Regions from separate parts of the Homo sapiens genome. Here region 2 is linked to region 1. The links come from fine-mapping of genetic effects on gene expression. A gene starts in region 1. The other region holds a variant in brackets. All regions are shown on one strand. Distances are from middle to middle.

What was found.
Region 2: its variant is fine-mapped to the expression of EDF1 in whole blood (INTERVAL, PIP 0.96).

The regions. Positions count from the first base shown.
Region 1 is chr9:136,863,204-136,871,531 of GRCh38, reverse strand. It overlaps EDF1 (endothelial differentiation related factor 1), which reads left to right and starts at 5,224. Exons shown (of 5, transcript NM_003792.4): 1 at 5,224-5,351; 2 at 7,661-7,712; 3 at 8,084-8,244. The coding sequence starts at 5,274. RefSeq lists silencers at 4,923-5,232, 5,333-5,522.
Region 2 is chr9:136,933,229-136,941,556 of GRCh38, reverse strand. It overlaps FBXW5 (F-box and WD repeat domain containing 5), which reads left to right. Exons shown (of 9, transcript NM_018998.4): 7 at 1-20; 8 at 94-306; 9 at 386-1,122. The coding sequence ends at 629. Among named protein-coding and RNA genes, the nearest start is that of FBXW5, 7.3 kb to the left of the region's middle. RefSeq lists enhancers at 2,887-3,499, 3,500-4,113. The variant C/T (reference allele first, on the strand shown) is at 4,146.

The DNA.
Region 1 (8,328 bases):
TAAGAATTAATTGGCTGGGCTTGGTGGCTCACACCTGTAATCACAGCACTTTGGGAGGCTGAGGTGGTGGATTACCTGAGGTCAGGAGTTCGAGACCAGCCTGGCCGACATGGTGAAACACCATCTCTACTAAAAATACAAAATTTAGCCAGGTGTGGTGGCGTGCACCTGTAGTCCCAGCTACTCGGGAGGCTGAGGCAGGAGAATCGCTTGAACCCAGGAGGTGGAGGTTGTAGTGAGCTGACATTGTGCCAATGCACTCAAGCTTGGGCAACAGATGGAGTGAGACTCTGTCGCAAAAAAATAACGAATTTATCAGATTTACATTTACGTAATGTATTTATTTATTTATTTACGTATTTAGGGCACATTGGCATTGTGTGTACTAATATACTTATTTTTAACAGATTACCTAGATTACTTATGAAAACTGAGATATTGGCTGGGCACACCTGTAATCCCAGAACTTTGGGAGGCCTAATCAGGCAGATCATGAGGTCAAGAGTTCAAGACCATCCTGGGCAATATGGTGAAACCCCGTCTCTACTAACAATACAAAAATTAGCTGGGCTTGGTGGCATGTGCCTGTAGTCCTGGCTACTTGGGAGGCTGAGGCAGGAGAATTGCTTGAACCTGGGAGGCGGAGGTTGCAGTGAGACAAGATCGCGCCACCGCATTCCATCCCAGGCGACAGTGTGAGACCCCGTCTCAAAAACAGAAAAAAGAAGACATAGTGAGAGCGGAGTAAGCATGTCACTTAAACATGTGGAAGTGAACACCCAAAAGTACAAAGCAGCTGTGAAACTTGGAAGCAGTAACCTCTGGGGATTGGGAACATGGTGGGCAGAGGGACAGGGGGTGACCACTGATTTTTTAAAAATCCAAGCTGTCCTGTGAGACTTTTATTATTTATTTATTTACTGAGACAGGGTCTTACTGTTGTCCAGGCTGGAGTGCGATGGCATGATCATGGTTCACCATAGGCTTGACCTTCCAGGTTCAAGTGATCCTCCTACTGCAGCTTCCTGAGTAGCTGGGACCACAGGCACACATCACCACACCCAGCTAATTGTTTGTATGTTTTTGTAGAGACAGGGTTTTACCATGTTGCCCAGGCTGGTCTCGAACTCCTGGCCTTAAGCGATTTCCCACCTCGGCCTCCCAAAGTGCTGCATTGTGGGAGGCTGAGGTGGGAGGATCGCTTAAGCCTGGGAGGTTGGGCCTGCTGTGAGCTGTGATCACGCCACTGCATTCCAGCCTGGATGCCACAGTGAGACCTTGTCTCTAAATAAATAAATAGTAGGAAAATGTTTCCGACATGGTGAATGTGTGGTACTATATAGTCCTAAGAAGCTCAGTGGGCCAGATGTGGTGGCTCACGCCTGTAGTCCCAACACTTTGGGAGGCCGAGGCGGGCGGATCACCTGAGGTCAAAAGTTTGAGACCAGCCTGGCCAACATGATGAAACCCGTCTCTACTAAAAACACAAAAAATTAGTCAGGCGTGGTGGCAGGTGCCTGTAATCCCAGCTATTCAGGAGGCTGAGGCAGGAAAATCACTTGAACCTGGGAGGCAGAGGTTGCAGTGAGCCTAGATCATGTCACTGCACTCCAGTCTGGATGACAAGAGCGAAACTCCATCTCAAAAAAAAAAAAGAAAAGAAAATTAGCTGGGCATGAACCCAGGAGGTGGAGGTTGTAGCAAGCCAAGATCGTGCCACTGCACTCCAGCCTGGGTGACACAGCAAGATTCCATCTCAAAAAAAAATAAAATAAAAAAGCAGCTCAGTGAACCCAAGCAAGGTAAATACAAAGGAAAATATGCTTAGGCACATGCTAAGAAAACTGAAGATCAGGCTGGGGGTGTTGGAACATGCCTGTAATTCCAGTATTTTGGGAGGCTGAGGTGGGAGGATCACTTGAGCCCAGGAGGTTGAGGCTGCAGTGAGCCATGATTGTGCCACTGCACTCCAGCCTGGGCAACAGAGTGAGGCCCTGTCTCAAAAAAAAAAAAAAAAGAAAAAAAAAAGAAAAAGAAAAGAAAAAGAAAACTGAAGACAGGGATAGTCTTGAAAGAGCCAGAGGACATGCCACATTGTCACATAACCTGCTGGGGAACCAGGACACAAATGACTGATCACTGATTCTCACTGGCAAGGATGGAAGTTGGAAGACAATGGGATGACGTTTATACAATAGTGTATCCTTCAAACACAAGGGCAAAATAGAGACATTTTCAGTTAAATGAAAGATGAAACTACAGCAGATGGTACTAAAAGGACCGAAGAAAGGCTGGAGGGAAATTATGCCAGAGAGACACTAAGATCTGCAGATGGAAATGAAGAGACTTTTTTTCTCCAGAAGTCTTTGGAATTGTCTTTTCTCCATGCATGAAGCTAAATGGATAACTGGTAGACAGACTGGTGCAACATCTCCAGTGAGATACGAGAGGCTCACCAGACCCCCCAAAGCTGCTTCTTTGTATCAGCTGCTTTCCTCTGGGCCCGAAGTCGGAAGAATCCAGGAATAGGAGGGAGTGCAAACAAACGACCCCGGAGTGGGACGGACGGAGTGGGATGGAGTGGGACGGAGTGGGCAGTGAGGACAGCCTCACACAGACACCTGTATCCATCATGCCTTGGTGCAGGGAGTGCCAAGGACAGGGCACAAGTGACTTGTGGCATCAGGCCTGGACTCCCGATGGAGGGCCAGATGGGACAACGGCTGTCTTGGTGGACACCTGCAGAGGACAGCTAGATGTAGCTGTCCCCTCTCTCTCAGCCCAGGCTCACTACGGAGCTAGCTGAGCCCCACTTGCATGGGTCTCCCAGGCTCTGAAAAGGGCCTCCCAATGCGTTCATGAGATCAGGTGTTGGTTAAGTTTGTCATGTTAGGAGGCCTGAACTGCAGTGTTAACAAGGCTGCCTCTTTCCAGGCCAACTCCACCTTCATCACAATCTTCCTGGGGGCTGGTGGCACTGGAGTGACGATAAGCATTTTTGGCACACAACAAAGGGGGACTTGAGTGGAGATACATCCAGTCAGAGTTTATGGGATATTTTCTTTTTCTTTCTTTCTTTTTTTTGTTTTTCTGAGACAGCAGAGTCTTGCTCTGTCCCTAGGCTGGAGTGCAATGGTGCGGTGTCGTCGACTCACTGCAACCTCCGCCTCCCGGTTCAAGCAATTCTCCTGCCTCAGCCTCCTGAGTAGCTGGGACTACAGGCACGCACCACCATGCCCAGCTGATTTTTGTATTTTTAATAGAGACAGGGTTTCACCGTGTTGGCCAGGATGATCTCGATCTCTCAACCTCGTGATCCATCCGCCTCGGCCTTCCAAAGTGCTGGGATTACAGAAGTGAGCCACTGCGCCCGGCCACAAGAGATTATTTTCATTCAGTGGAAGCACATCCTTGCTGGCCGGCTGAGGCTGTTGAGTCCTTAGCCGAACGGAGCTTGGTGCTGGAAGTCGGCGGGAAACAGAGAAGCAAGGTTTGTATGGACGGAGCCATCAGTGTGTCCCCAAGGTTCTTCCAATCATCCGGTGTGAAAAACGGTAAGCAGAAGACTCAACTTCCCACTGCCTGGTTAGAATTACAGTTGTCTCCTCCGCGGAGTGCATTTGCTAATGCAGCATTTCCAATTTAATACAGCATTTATGTATGTTTTCTTTTTGGATGGAGACTGCATTTATCAGGTTCCTTGTTTGTGGAGCATCTATTCAAAGCCCGGAAGTCAATACTATGATTAGGGCCTGCGGTGGCTCAAGCCTGTAATCCCAGGCTTTGGGAGGCCGAGGCGGGAGGATCACGCGAGCTCAGGAGTTCCAGACCGACGAGCCAGGGCGGCACGGAGACCCCATCTCTACCCCACAAAATACAAAAATTAGCCAGGCGTGGGGGCCGCGCCTATAGTCCCATCGCTTGAGCGCAGGACGTCGAGGCTGCAGTGAGCTGAGATCTCAATGTTGTGCTCCAGCGTGGGCCACAGAGTGAGACCCTGTCTATAAAAATAAAAATCCTAAAAAAGTTGTTCAATGATAATGTATAATGACCTTTCTCATTATACAAAACGGCTGGAAAATAGGGTATTACAGAATTATTGTCATATAACATATACACTTTATACATTACAGAAAATAAACATCATGCAAAACCATTCATTTTTGCAACCGATGTTTTCACAGTTTTCCATTCTTTTTCTTTTTTTTTGAAACGCAGTTTCATTCTTGTTGCCCAGGCTGGAGTGCAATAGCGCGATCTCGGCTCACCGCAACCTCCGCCTCCCGGGTTCAACTGATTCTTCTGCCTCAGCCTCCCCGAGTAGCTGAGATTACAGGTGCCCGCCACCACGTCCGGCTAATTTTGTATTTTTAGTAGAGACGGGGTTTCTCCATGTTGGTCAGGCTGGTCTCGAACTCCCGACCTCAGGTGATACGCCCGCCTCGGCCTCCCAAAGTTCTGGGACTACAGGCGTGAACCACCGTGCCCGGCTTGCGTTCTTTTTCTTAAAGAGTCCCACCTGCGGATCACGAGATCAGGAGATCGAGACCATCCTGGCCCGTCTCTACTAAAAATAAAATAAAATAAAATAAATAAATTAGCCGGGCGTGGTGGCTGGCGCCTGTAGTCCCAGGTACTCGGGAGGCTGAGGCAGGAGAATGGCATGAACCCGGGAGACGGAGTGAGCCGAGATCGCGCCACGGCACCCAGCCTGGGCGATAGAGCAAGACTCCATCTCAAAAAATAAAAGTTAAAAAAAAAAAAGTGTCCCACCCCACGCTGCGTTTCGGGCCCCACGGCCCTGGTCCTCGAGCGCAGGTCCCAGCCGCGCAGGCGGCAAAACAAAGGGGGGCGGCCGCACGGCTAGAGCGGAGACCCCGCGCCCCCTCCGCCCGCGTGGCCCGGCCGGGGTGCGGGGCCCGGGGAGGCACGGGGGCTGCGCGTCGGGGCGCAGCCGCCGCCCGCGTGTGCTCGGAGGCCGCGGGGCCCGGGCTCCGGGGTCCTCCCGACCTGCAGCCCCAGCGGCTACCGCGCCTCGCCAGGCCAGGCCAGGCCCCGACGTCGCCTTCCCTACGTCGCCGGCGCCCGGCCACGACGTCCCTCAGACGAGCCGAACGCCGAATGGCCCCGAGCACGGGAAGTGCCCGCCCCCCGCGTGCAGCCAGCCAATGGGACGCCGAAAGCGGGGAGGTGCCGAGGGGACGTAGCGTCGCCGCGCCAGGTCTCTAGCAGCTGCCGCTGAGCCGCCGGACGGACGCTCGTCTTCGCCCGCCATGGCCGAGAGCGACTGGGACACGGTGACGGTGCTGCGCAAGAAGGGCCCTACGGCCGCCCAGGCCAAATCCAAGCAGGTGCTTTGCTGACTGAGGAGCGGCCGGGCCGGGCGGGGCGGACGCTGGGCCGGGGCCACGGACCGTGGGGCAGGGGGCTCGGGGAAGGGCAGGCGGGGCCTGGGACAGGGCGCAGGGGACGGGGACAAGGCTGGGGTGCCGGGGGCAGGACGGGGTTCGAAGGGCGGGGCGAATCGCAGGGGTAGGAGGACCGGGCCAGGACAGGGGTGGGAAGGTGGGGGGCGGACCCAGGAGGGGATGGACGGACCCAGGAGGCAGGGGGCGGGCGACTGGAGGAGGAGAGGAGCAGGGAACCGGACGGGGCAAGGGGCAGGCGATAGGGCCGGGACCAGTGCCAGGGTGGGGCGGGGAGGGGATAGGGGCAGGGACTGTTGGTGGGGACAGGTGTGAGGACAGAGGCAGGAGGTGGGGACGGGGACGGGGACAAGGCTGGGGGCCTTGTGTGAGGATAGGGGACAGAGAACCAGGGTGGGCACTGGGAACGGGGGCAGGGATGGAGATGGGGACAGGGCTTGGAAGAACAGGGTAGAGTGGGGTACAGGGCTTAGGACAGGGGTGGGGACTGGGGCAAGCAGCAGGAACCAGCGATGAAGGTGGGGAATTGGGGTTGGGATAGGGCTGGGGGCCATTGGACAGCAGTTGAGGGCCTGGGGCGGGAGACTGGGTGACGGGGCAGAGGTTAGTGACCTGAGTGGGAGCTGGGGACAGGGGGTAGGCTCCTCCCTGAGAGTTTTCTCTCTGCCTGGGACCTGCTTGGTTCTACTGGTCTCCGCTGGTCAGATACTGCCCAGGGAGCCTGCCTGGGTGCATCACAGGCTGTAGAGAGTGCCTGCTTCAGGGGACCCCATGAGCAGGTGGACCCTGTTGCACAGGTGGAAGATGGGCGTGCCCTGAACAGTACTTGTGGAAGGAGATTACCAATGTGGCTGATGGATCCGAGGGTCAGTTGTGAGTCTGATGTAATAGGGAGGACAGTTTAGTCACCGCCTCTGCCTCATTCGTACCCTCAGGTGGCCTAGGGCTGAAGCCTTTGAGGCCAGTTGGGCCAGGATGCGCTGGGGCTCTGGTGACAGGGATTCATTGGTCTGCCCTACCCTTACTGGTTGCACAGTCAAAACCAAATTCACTCTCCTTTTCTTTTAAAGGAAACTTAATGGCCACAAGCTAGGAGTCATGGGAATAATTGCGTGGCAGCATCTGTGAGCAGATCACACTTAGGATGCTCCACAAGTCACTCCTCTGAAGTGGTAGAAATGTTGGCCGGGCGCGGTGGCTCACGCCTGTAATCCCAGCACTCTGGGAGGCCAAGGCAGGTGGATCATGAGGTCAGGAGTTCAAGACCAGCCTGGCCAAGATGGTGAAACCCCGTCTCTACTAAAAATACAAAAAATTAGCCAGGCACGGTGGCAGGAGCCTGTAATCCCAGCTACTCGGGAGGCTGAGGCAGGAGAATTGCTTGAACTCGGAGGGCGAAGGTTGCAGTGAGCCGAGATCGTGTCACTGCATTCCAGCCTGGGCAACAGAGTGAGACTCTGTCTCAAAAAAAAAAAGTTAATAAATACATTATATTAATATTCAGTGACTGTAGATGAGATGGCATCACTGTTATTGGTGATGTTTCTGGAGAGCCTGCAGGCTTCCATGAGATGTGTCATCTCTGTGTTACTAGGAACCAGATTCAGGGAGGAAGGCCACACCAGGCCAGTATTTGGTGTTCCTTCCTACTTTTGCAGTAGAGTCCAGCAGAAAAGTAAATCTGTGCTAAATATGATTTCTCAAAAAGAATCCACTAACGCATACCAGCTATTCAGGAGGGAGGCTGAGGCCAGAGGCTCACTTGAGCCCAGGAGTTCCAGACCAGCCTGGGCAACATAGCAAGACCTCAACTCTAAAAAAAAAAAAAAAAAATCCCTAGTGTGTCTTTCTCAACAGCAAAGGAAGTGGTGTTCTCTTAGCAGTTAACTGTGACTTTCTTAGACATCTGATTGTAGAGGCTTTTGTATAATGAGTTTGGGGTTTTGTTGTGTTTTATTGTTTGTAGAGACAGGATCTTGCTGTGTTGCCCAGGCTGGTCTCGAACTCGTGGCCTCAAGTGATCCTGCTACTTCGGTTTCCCAAAGTGCTGGGATTACAGGCATAAGCCATGGTGCCTAGTTGAGCTTAGGTAACTGAACCCAGGACTGCATATCAGTCCTTGGGCACCACTAGTCCTTAGCAGTGTGCTAACTGGCTAACAGCAGGCCTGAATTGGTGTGTGCTGGATACTGTCAAAGCTAATTTTGATCCACTGATGTTTTCTAATTTTCTAGGCTATCTTAGCGGCACAGAGACGAGGAGAAGATGTGGAGACTTCCAAGAAATGTAGGTACTTGTGTTTCCGCTTGCAACATGAGGCTGTGCTGTGGGGTCCATGTGCTGGTGGGTGTGGTGTGTGCGGCGCCCCCGGGGACGTTGTCAGCTGAGTGCCTGCCTGCACCGGTGCTGGCCGGAGCCCTGGGAGGCAGCCATCTTCCCAGAGCAGCTCTGGTTGGCATGAGTACAGCTGCCTGTCCTCATAACTGAGAGAAAACTCTGGAAGTCCACGACCTGAGGTGTGTGAACTTGGGACAGCCTGGGTTCCCATGTCCCCTTGAGTTCAGGCAGCCTCTGGGGTCTGGTTACCGCTTTGAAATGGTTTTTCTTCAGGTTAATTCCAAATCCTCTCCTCTGCTTTTGCCTCACACCGACTCCAGGGGCTGCTGGCCAGAACAAACAACATTCTATTACCAAGAACACGGCCAAGCTGGACCGGGAGACAGAGGAGCTGCACCATGACAGGGTGACCCTGGAGGTGGGCAAGGTGATCCAGCAAGGTCGGCAGAGCAAGGGGCTTACGCAGAAGGACCTGGCCACGGTGAGGCTGCGCCGGGGCTCTCACTCCTGGGGTTGTGGGTTTGGGGAGGGGGATGGCCGGTGTTCAGATAGCACGGGGAGGGTG
Region 2 (8,328 bases), 70 kb before region 1:
GGCCTGTCGCCCGACAACAGGTGGGCCTCTTGCCAGTGTCCCAGGCGGGGTGCCCGCAGGCGGCCCACACCTAGCACAGTGCCCCTCGCCCAGGTACCTGTACGTGAACAGCCGCGCCTGGCCCAACGGTGCGGTGGTGGCCGACCCCATGCAGCCGCCACCAATCGCGGAGGAGATTGACCTGCTGGTGTTCGACCTCAAGACCATGCGGGAGGTGAGGCGGGCTCTGCGTGCGCACCGCGCCTACACGCCCAACGACGAGTGCTTCTTCATCTTCCTGGACGTCAGCAGGGACTTCGTGGCCAGGTGCAGGGCGCGGCGTGGTGCAGGGCGGGTGTGGGCAGCAGCGGGCGGGCGGCCGGCTCACCCAGGCGCTGTTCTGCAGCGGGGCGGAGGACCGGCACGGCTACATCTGGGACCGCCACTACAACATCTGTCTGGCCAGGCTGCGGCACGAGGATGTGGTCAACTCAGTGGTCTTCAGTCCCCAGGAGCAGGAGCTGCTGCTCACGGCCAGCGACGACGCCACCATCAAAGCCTGGCGCTCCCCACGCACCATGCGCGTCCTCCAGGCACCTCGCCCACGGCCTCGCACCTTCTTCTCCTGGCTTGCCAGCCAGAGGCGCTGAGGTGTGCTGGGTGCACTGGAGCCACCGGGACCCCTTGAGGACATCGCCAGGCTCTGTGGCTTTTTCCCGAGCGGGAGAGGTGGAGATGCTTATAGCAGTTACGCCTTAGGAAGGGGACAACCAGGCCCCGCCACACGCTCACACACAAACCTGCTCACGCAGCTGTGATGCTTGGCACGGGGTGGCCAGTGCAGATGGAGCCCAAGGCCCCCTCGGCCTCCTGGGCAACTTGGGGTACACAGGATACTGGGGGTGCCGCTCCTCACTCAACCCCAGGCTAGGGGTACACCTGACCCAGCTGGCCTCGGCCCGGGGCACCTTCGGCTGGTCCTGTGGGGCCCTGGACGGTGGCCCAGTGGTGGCAGGGGCTGCTCCTGGCTGTGGTTGTGCGCCCGGGGCTTGGGAGCGGCCGGTCACGCTGCTGTGGGCCCGAGTGTGTTGCATGTCCACGCACCACCCGTTCAGGGCCCTGAATAAACAGTTGGCAACAGCACATTGTTGTCCAGTCTCTGTCTGCAGGGAGGGAGACTGTGGGCACTGCTGGCACAGTGGAGTGGACCTCATGGTCACTGCTGACGGGTGACGCTGTTATTGCTGGCACAGTGGTCCTACTGGAGTGAATGTTGCAGTCACTGCTGACAGGTGACATGTGCGTCTGAGGTCATGTGCTGGTGCCAGACTTTGTCACACTGCCCTGTCCTCCATGACCTCCAGGGAGATGCCTGGCACATGTGCCGGGGCTGGCAGCATGCAGGGCCTGCCGTCTGGGTCCAGGGTCAGTAGGCCACGTCACTCCCAGTGCCAGGGCAGCCCCCCCAGTCAGTCCCGTCCTTGAGGGAGTTCCTCAGCTGCTGGGTCCAGAGTCGGCAGGCTGCGTCGCTCCCAGTGCCAGGGCAGCCCCCACAGTCAGTCCCATCCTTAAGGGAGTTCCTCGGCTGCTGGGTCCAGAGTTGGCAGGCTGCGTCACTCCCAGTGCCAGGGCGGCCCCCCACAGTCCCGTCCTTGAGGGAGTCCCTCGGCTGCTGGGTCCAGAGTCGGCAGGCCGTGTCGCTCCCAGTGCCAGGGCGGTCTCCACAGTCAGTTCAGGCCGGCGAGGATGGGACCAGGGGCCCAGAAGTGGGAGCAGAGGTGGAGCTCCAGCTGGACCCCACAGGCTTTGTTGGAACTGCACCGGGAGCTCGGGGGCCCGGGGCGATGGTGGTGACAAGGAAGATGGCAGGAGTAGAGCCTGGCACTCGGGTCAGCTGCCCATTATAGGAAGCACACAGAGCTTGTGGCTCCAAACATGGCAGCAAGCAACCCCGTACAGAGAAAGGACGCAGAGGAGACGAGTGAGTGTCGAGGTGATGGTTCCCCTGAGCCACGTGGGCCGCAGGTAGAGACCCTGGGGCTGAGCTCGAGCACCGACGGGATCAGGGACAGCACCACCGAGAGAGGCTGCGCCACCCAGAGGGACGGAGCCTCTGCCCTGCCAACTCCTGGTCTCCAGCTGGGAAGCCCTGGGGACCACTGCAGTTCATAATAAAACCCCCAACGTGGGCGAGAACAAGGAAAGGAAGGAAGACACACCAAAGACCCCCAGACAAGATAAGCTGCCCTGAGACTAACACCCTCAGAAGGGAGCTGACAGATTCTGTAAATGCAAGCACACCACGGGCAGGCTCCAAAGAATTGAGCAATTTCCTGAAAAGGACTTACCTACGTTCACATTCAAGGAGACTAACAAAAACATTCCTATGCACCATAAAACAAAAGTGGGGACAGAAATCAAGAGGACTTGGACATTTCAAAATAAAAAGGGAGCCAATTAGACACTGGAAAATGACAGGGCGAGTGACTGCATCAAAAGCTTGATACGTAGGCCGGGCGCGGTGGCTCACGCCTGTAATCCCAGTACTTTGGGAGGCCGAGGTGGGCAGATCACGAGGTCAGATCGAGGCCATCCTGGCTAACAAGGTGAAACCCTGTCTCTACTAAAAATACAAAAAATTAGCCGGGCGCGGTGGCGGACGCCTGTAGTCTCAGCTACTCGAGAGACTGAGGTAGGAGAATGGCGTGAACCTGGGAGGCGGAGCTTGCAGTGAGCCGAGATTGCACCACTGCACTCCAGCCTGGGCGACAGAACAAGACTCTGTCTCAAAAAAGGAAAAGAAAAAAAAAAAAATCTTGATATGTGGAAAGTGCTGGACCAGACAGACTCGACGAGAGGACCAGGCAGCAGAAGATGGCACAGAGGAGACGAAAGAAACACAGCCCTGGGAGGGGAATGGAGCGGCATGCATGCCCCCACCCCATCTACGGGGCAGGGGTGGAGACCCAGTGTTTAAAGAGAAAGTGACTGAATTAGCAAAAGAACAGAAGTCCTCAGAAAACATATGCTGAGGTCAGGCCGGGCGTGGTGGTTCATGCCTGTAATCCTAGCACTTTGGGAGGCCGAGGCGGATCACTTGAGGTCAGGAGATCAAGACCAGCCTGGCCAACACGGTGAAACCCCTTTTGTACTTAAAAAAAAAAAAAAAAAAAATTAGCCGAGCGTGGTGGCACACACCTCTAATCCCAGCTACTCAGGGGACTGAGGCAGGAGAATTCATTGAACCCGGGAATGAGCTGAGATTGCGCCACTGCACTCCAGCCTGGGCGACAGAGTGAACTCTGTGAAACTGCAGCTATGAAACTTGTGCACGGGGCCTGGAGCAGCTGCCAGAGAGCTGGGTCAGGGAGCAGCAGCAAGATCCCAAGTTTCGCAGAACTGGTGCTTGACCTAACATCCATGACCTGAACTCCACGCAGCCGCAACACCGGACGTGAGTGCTGGGGCCAGGCAGAAAGCCCAGAGCAGCCCTAAGGGCCAGGGAAAGGAACCCACGCCGATGCGCAGGGTCAGTGAGGCAATGCCCTGGGTTTACCCTCTTCTCCATTCTTTTGTGACCCTGATGGCAGTGGGAGTGGTGGCTACAGGAACCCATCAGAGCCAAACTTGGGGCCAGAAAGTCCCTCACAGCTCAGTGCGGCTGTATTGAGGGTGGGACCACCCCCATTAGCTTTCCTCCCCTGTCCTCCTGCCACATAGACTCCAACGCGGCCCAGTCAAGGGCATGTCACTGTCTGAACTGACAGTGAGTGAGCCCAGCAACCAAACCCAGCGTGGGGAGCTTGGGAAGCACCCACATGGGGTGGCTGTGGATGCCGGGCTCAGCTCACATGCAGACACATGGGTCTAATGATCACACCATGGACGTGGGGAACTGCAGACCAGCCTTGGGTCCCAGACCAAAGACCAGCAGCTCTGAAGACAGGAGTCCACGCAGGTGGGAGCAGTGTGGGCCCAACCCTCACAGGACCAAGTGCCTGCTAACCAAAGACACCCACGCAGGTGGGAGCAGTGTGGGCCTGACCATCCCAGGACCAAGTGCCTGCTAACCAAAGATACTCATGCGGGCAGGAACAATGTGGGCCCAACCTTCACAGGACCAAGTGCCTGCTAACCAGACTTCAACATTTCCCACAGGATTCAAA[C/T]ATGACCCAGATCTCATAAAGTCATATTCAAAATGTCTAGAATATAGCCCAAAATTGCTTGACACACGAAGAACCACAACATTTCAACTTGCAGCTGGGCACCGCGGCTCACACCTGAAACCCTAGTTCCCTGGGAGGCCACGGCTGCAGGGAGCAATCACCGGGCCGCTGCACTCCAGCCTGGGTGACAGAGACCCTGTTTCTAAAAAATAAAAATAAAAAATAAAAGATTCAATGTGCAAAGGTAAAGACCCATAAATTCTATTTCCCAAAAACAATTAGTAGCTTTTTTAAAAAACCACACAACAAATTTTTATTATTTTTTAATTTTTGTAGAAATGAGGTCTATGTTGCCCAGGCTGGTCTCAAACTCCTGGGCTCAAGTAATCTTCCAGCCTCGGCCTCCAGAAGTGCTGGGATTACAGGCGTGAGCCACCGCACCGGCCAACACAATTCTTAAAAGGCACTGGGATTCCTCTGCTTCAAGATCATTACTAGGCTAGAAAAATAAAGCTTGTTCTACCAGAAATCACAAGTAAGAACTGAGTGTTCTCCAAGGCAGAAATTGTAGAGTCTAGTGCCATTTCAGGCAACGATGACTAAGCTCTGAACCCCAACATCCACAGCTGCCCATCAGAACACTTAAACCAGCTCGGAACAGACCAGCACAATTCGGCTTCATCAGACAAGGCCACCGTGCTCTTCTAAGATGCTAATAACCCCAAACAGGAGGTGCTGAAACCAAATGAAAGACAGTCTTTGAGGCTAGCTGCCACACCAACTGTGAGTTCCTTGTTATGTCCCCCTTCTATAACATTAATCAAGGAAATATTTTACTGCAAAGAGTATTTTATATGCCACTAGCCATGAATTTTTGTCATTAGTTACTACATAAATGTCACCTAGTGCCTGCCATTATCCACATGGCACAACCATTTTATGTCTACAATTCACTTCTGTATTTACAAACAGAATCTTTGTGATTCCCATAAGTACATTAGCAAAGGTTTAACATCGAGATGCAATCTAACATCCATAACCTCCATTGTTTTGCAGACAGCAATGTAGGAGAGAGAGATTTTTTTTTTTTTTTTTTTTTTTTGAGACAGAGTCTTGCTCTGTCGCCCAGGCTGGAGTGCAGTGGCGCGATCTCAGCTCACTGCAGGCTCTGCCTACCAGGTTCATGCCATTCTCCTGCCCCAGCCTCCCGAGTAGCTGGGACTACAGGCGCCCGCCACCATGCCCGGCTAATTTTTTTGTATTATTTTAGTGGAGACGGGGTTTCACTGTGTTGGCCAGGATGGTCTCGATCTCCTGACCTCGTGATCCGCCCGCCTCGGCCTCCCAAAGTGCTGGGATTCCAGGCATGAGCCACCATGCCCGGCTGAGGATTGTGTTCTTTAAAACAGTTTTATTTGGATTTACAAAATCTGAACACCTTACAATCATTGCAGATGAACATTATGCCATGGCCCCAGGTAGATGCACCCTGAACAAAAACTCACACTTCCCGATATGCAGGGGGAACCTGCAAGTCCTCACCAACCAAACGCCAGGCTTGGGAGGAAGTGACACAGACACAGATGCTGAAATTATCTGACAAGGGCTTTAAAGTAGCTACTATAAATATGCCAGAGCAAGCAATCACAAACATTTTGCAATGGATGTAAAAATATGAAAGTCTCAGCAAAAAAATAGAAGATGTAAAAAGGACCATTCATACCAAGATTAGGTATCTATAAAAAGAGAAGGAAAAAGGCTGGGCACGGTGGCTTACGCCTGTAACCCTAACATTTTGGGAGGCCAAGGCGGGCAGATCACCTGAGGTCAGGAGTTCAAGACCAGCCTGGCCAACATGGTAAAATCCCGTCTCTACTAAAAATACAAAAAAAAAAAGGCCGTGTGCGGTGGCTCACGCTTGTTAATCCCAGCACTTTGGGAGGCCGAGGTGGGCAGATCACAAGGTCAGGAGGATCGAGACCAAGTTCCAGCTACTCGGGAGGCTGAGGCAGAATGGCGTGAACCCAGGAGGCGGAGCTTGCAGTGAGCCGAGATCGCGCCACTGCACTCCAGCCTGGGCGACAGAGCAAGACTCCATCTCAAAAAAAAAAAAAAAAAAAAAGACAGGTTCTCACTCTGTTGCCCAGCCTTGAGTCACCAGTACAGTCATGACTTACTGCAGCTTCGACCTTCAGGCTCAAGTGATCCTCCCACCTCAGCCTCTCAAGTAGCTGGGACCACAGGCATGCACCACCACACCCAGCTAATTTTTATATTTTTTGTAGAGATGGGGTTTTGCCATGTTGTCCAGGCTGGTTTTGAACTCCTAGGCTGAAGTGATCCGCCTGCCTCGGCTTCCGTAAGTGCTGGGATTACGGCGTGAGCCACCATACTGGGCTGCAGCCTCTTTTTAAGGGCACGAATCCCATCCACAAGTGTTGCACCCTCATGATCTAAAAAGTCCTGCCTCCAAGTACCATCACATTGGAGATTATGTTTCAACACAGGAAATTGGGTGGGGGGGGCACAAACATTGTCTTCTCTTAGTCTGTTTTTGCTGCTATAACCGAATACCTGAGACCAGATAATTTATAAGGAATAGAAATTTATTGGCTCACAGTTCTGGGGGCTGGGAAGTCCCAGAGTAAGGTGCCAGCGTCTGGTGCAATCCTTCTTGTTGTGTCACTGTGGAAGGTGGAAGGGCAAGAGAGGGCCAAGCTCATCTTATTATACCAGCACCAATTCCAGCCTATCTTCCCTCTGACCTAATCACCCTTTAAGGATCCCACCTCTTAACACTGTTACAATGACAATTAAATATTAACATGAGTTTGGGAGATAAAAACATTCAAACCGTAGCATTCCATCCCTGCCCCTACACCAATTCATGTTCTTTTCACATACAAAATATACTCATTCCATCCCAATGGCCCCATTCAAAAGTCCAAAGCCCAGAGTCTCGTCTAAATCAAACATGGGTGAGACTCAAGGCATGATTCATCCTGAGGCAACTTTCCCTCCACTATGAGCCTGTGAAATTAAACAAGTTACGTGCTTCCAAAATACAATGGTAGGGCAGGCATAGAACAGACATTTCCATTCCAAAGGGATAAATTATAAAGAGGAAAGGAATAACAGGCCTCAAAAGCATGTCCAAAGTCCAACAGGGAGAATACTACTAAATCCTAAGGCTTGAGAATCATCATCTTTGACTCCAAATCCTGCCTTCTGCACGCCGTGGGGTGCGGCTGGGTCCTCAGGCTCTTGGGAACCTCACCCCTAGAGCTTTGCTGGGCTCAGACCTCACACAACTCTCTTAGGTTGGAGTCTCGTGCCTTCAGCTCTCCCAGGCTGGCAATGAACACTAGAGGCTCTCCAGTTCTGGGGTCTCAGGGGTGGCCTTATCCCCAAGGCTCTACCACATATTGCCCTAGTGTGGGCTCTCTGCCATGGCTCTGGCCTGGAGACTTGTGACATCCTGTGTGACACCCAGTGGATGAAGCCATGTCCCCACAGCTCCTGCAAGGCTGCAGAATCGACACCACCAAGGCTTATGACTTGTACCTTCCCTGGGTCCACATGAGACAGGCTGGAGTGGCTTAGGGGGTCTGCACTGGAATGCAGACAGCCAAGACTTGGGGTGGCCCTGGCCAGCAGGCTCTAAGGTCCACACCCTACACCTCTCTTTTGACATATTTCCTTCCCAAAGGCCTTGGCACTCTGGGCCTGTGGTGGGAGGGGCAGCACCAGGAATCTGAAATGCCTCTGGGGCCATTTTCCCACTGTCCTGATGAGCAGCCTCTGGCTTCGTTCTGTCCATACTAAGTTGCTTGGCCACACACTTGGTCTGTTCTCCTAAAGACATCTTATTTACTCCCTAAATGGGCAGGCTGAAAATCCTTACGATCCCTATTCTTTCCTTGTTAATTATAAATTCCATCTTTAATTCATTTCTCTTCTCACATCTTACTCTCTGCAGTTAGAAGAAAACATGCCACACCCTGAGTATTTCTTCAGCCAGATATCCCAGTTCCTTCCACAAAGGAAGGACTGGGCATGGACACCGTTCAGCCACGTTCTCTGCCACTTTATAACTAGGATGGTCATTCCTCCAGTTTCTGACACCTTGTTCTTCATTTCTGTCTGAGATCTTACCAGAATGGCCTTCACTGTCCAGATTTCT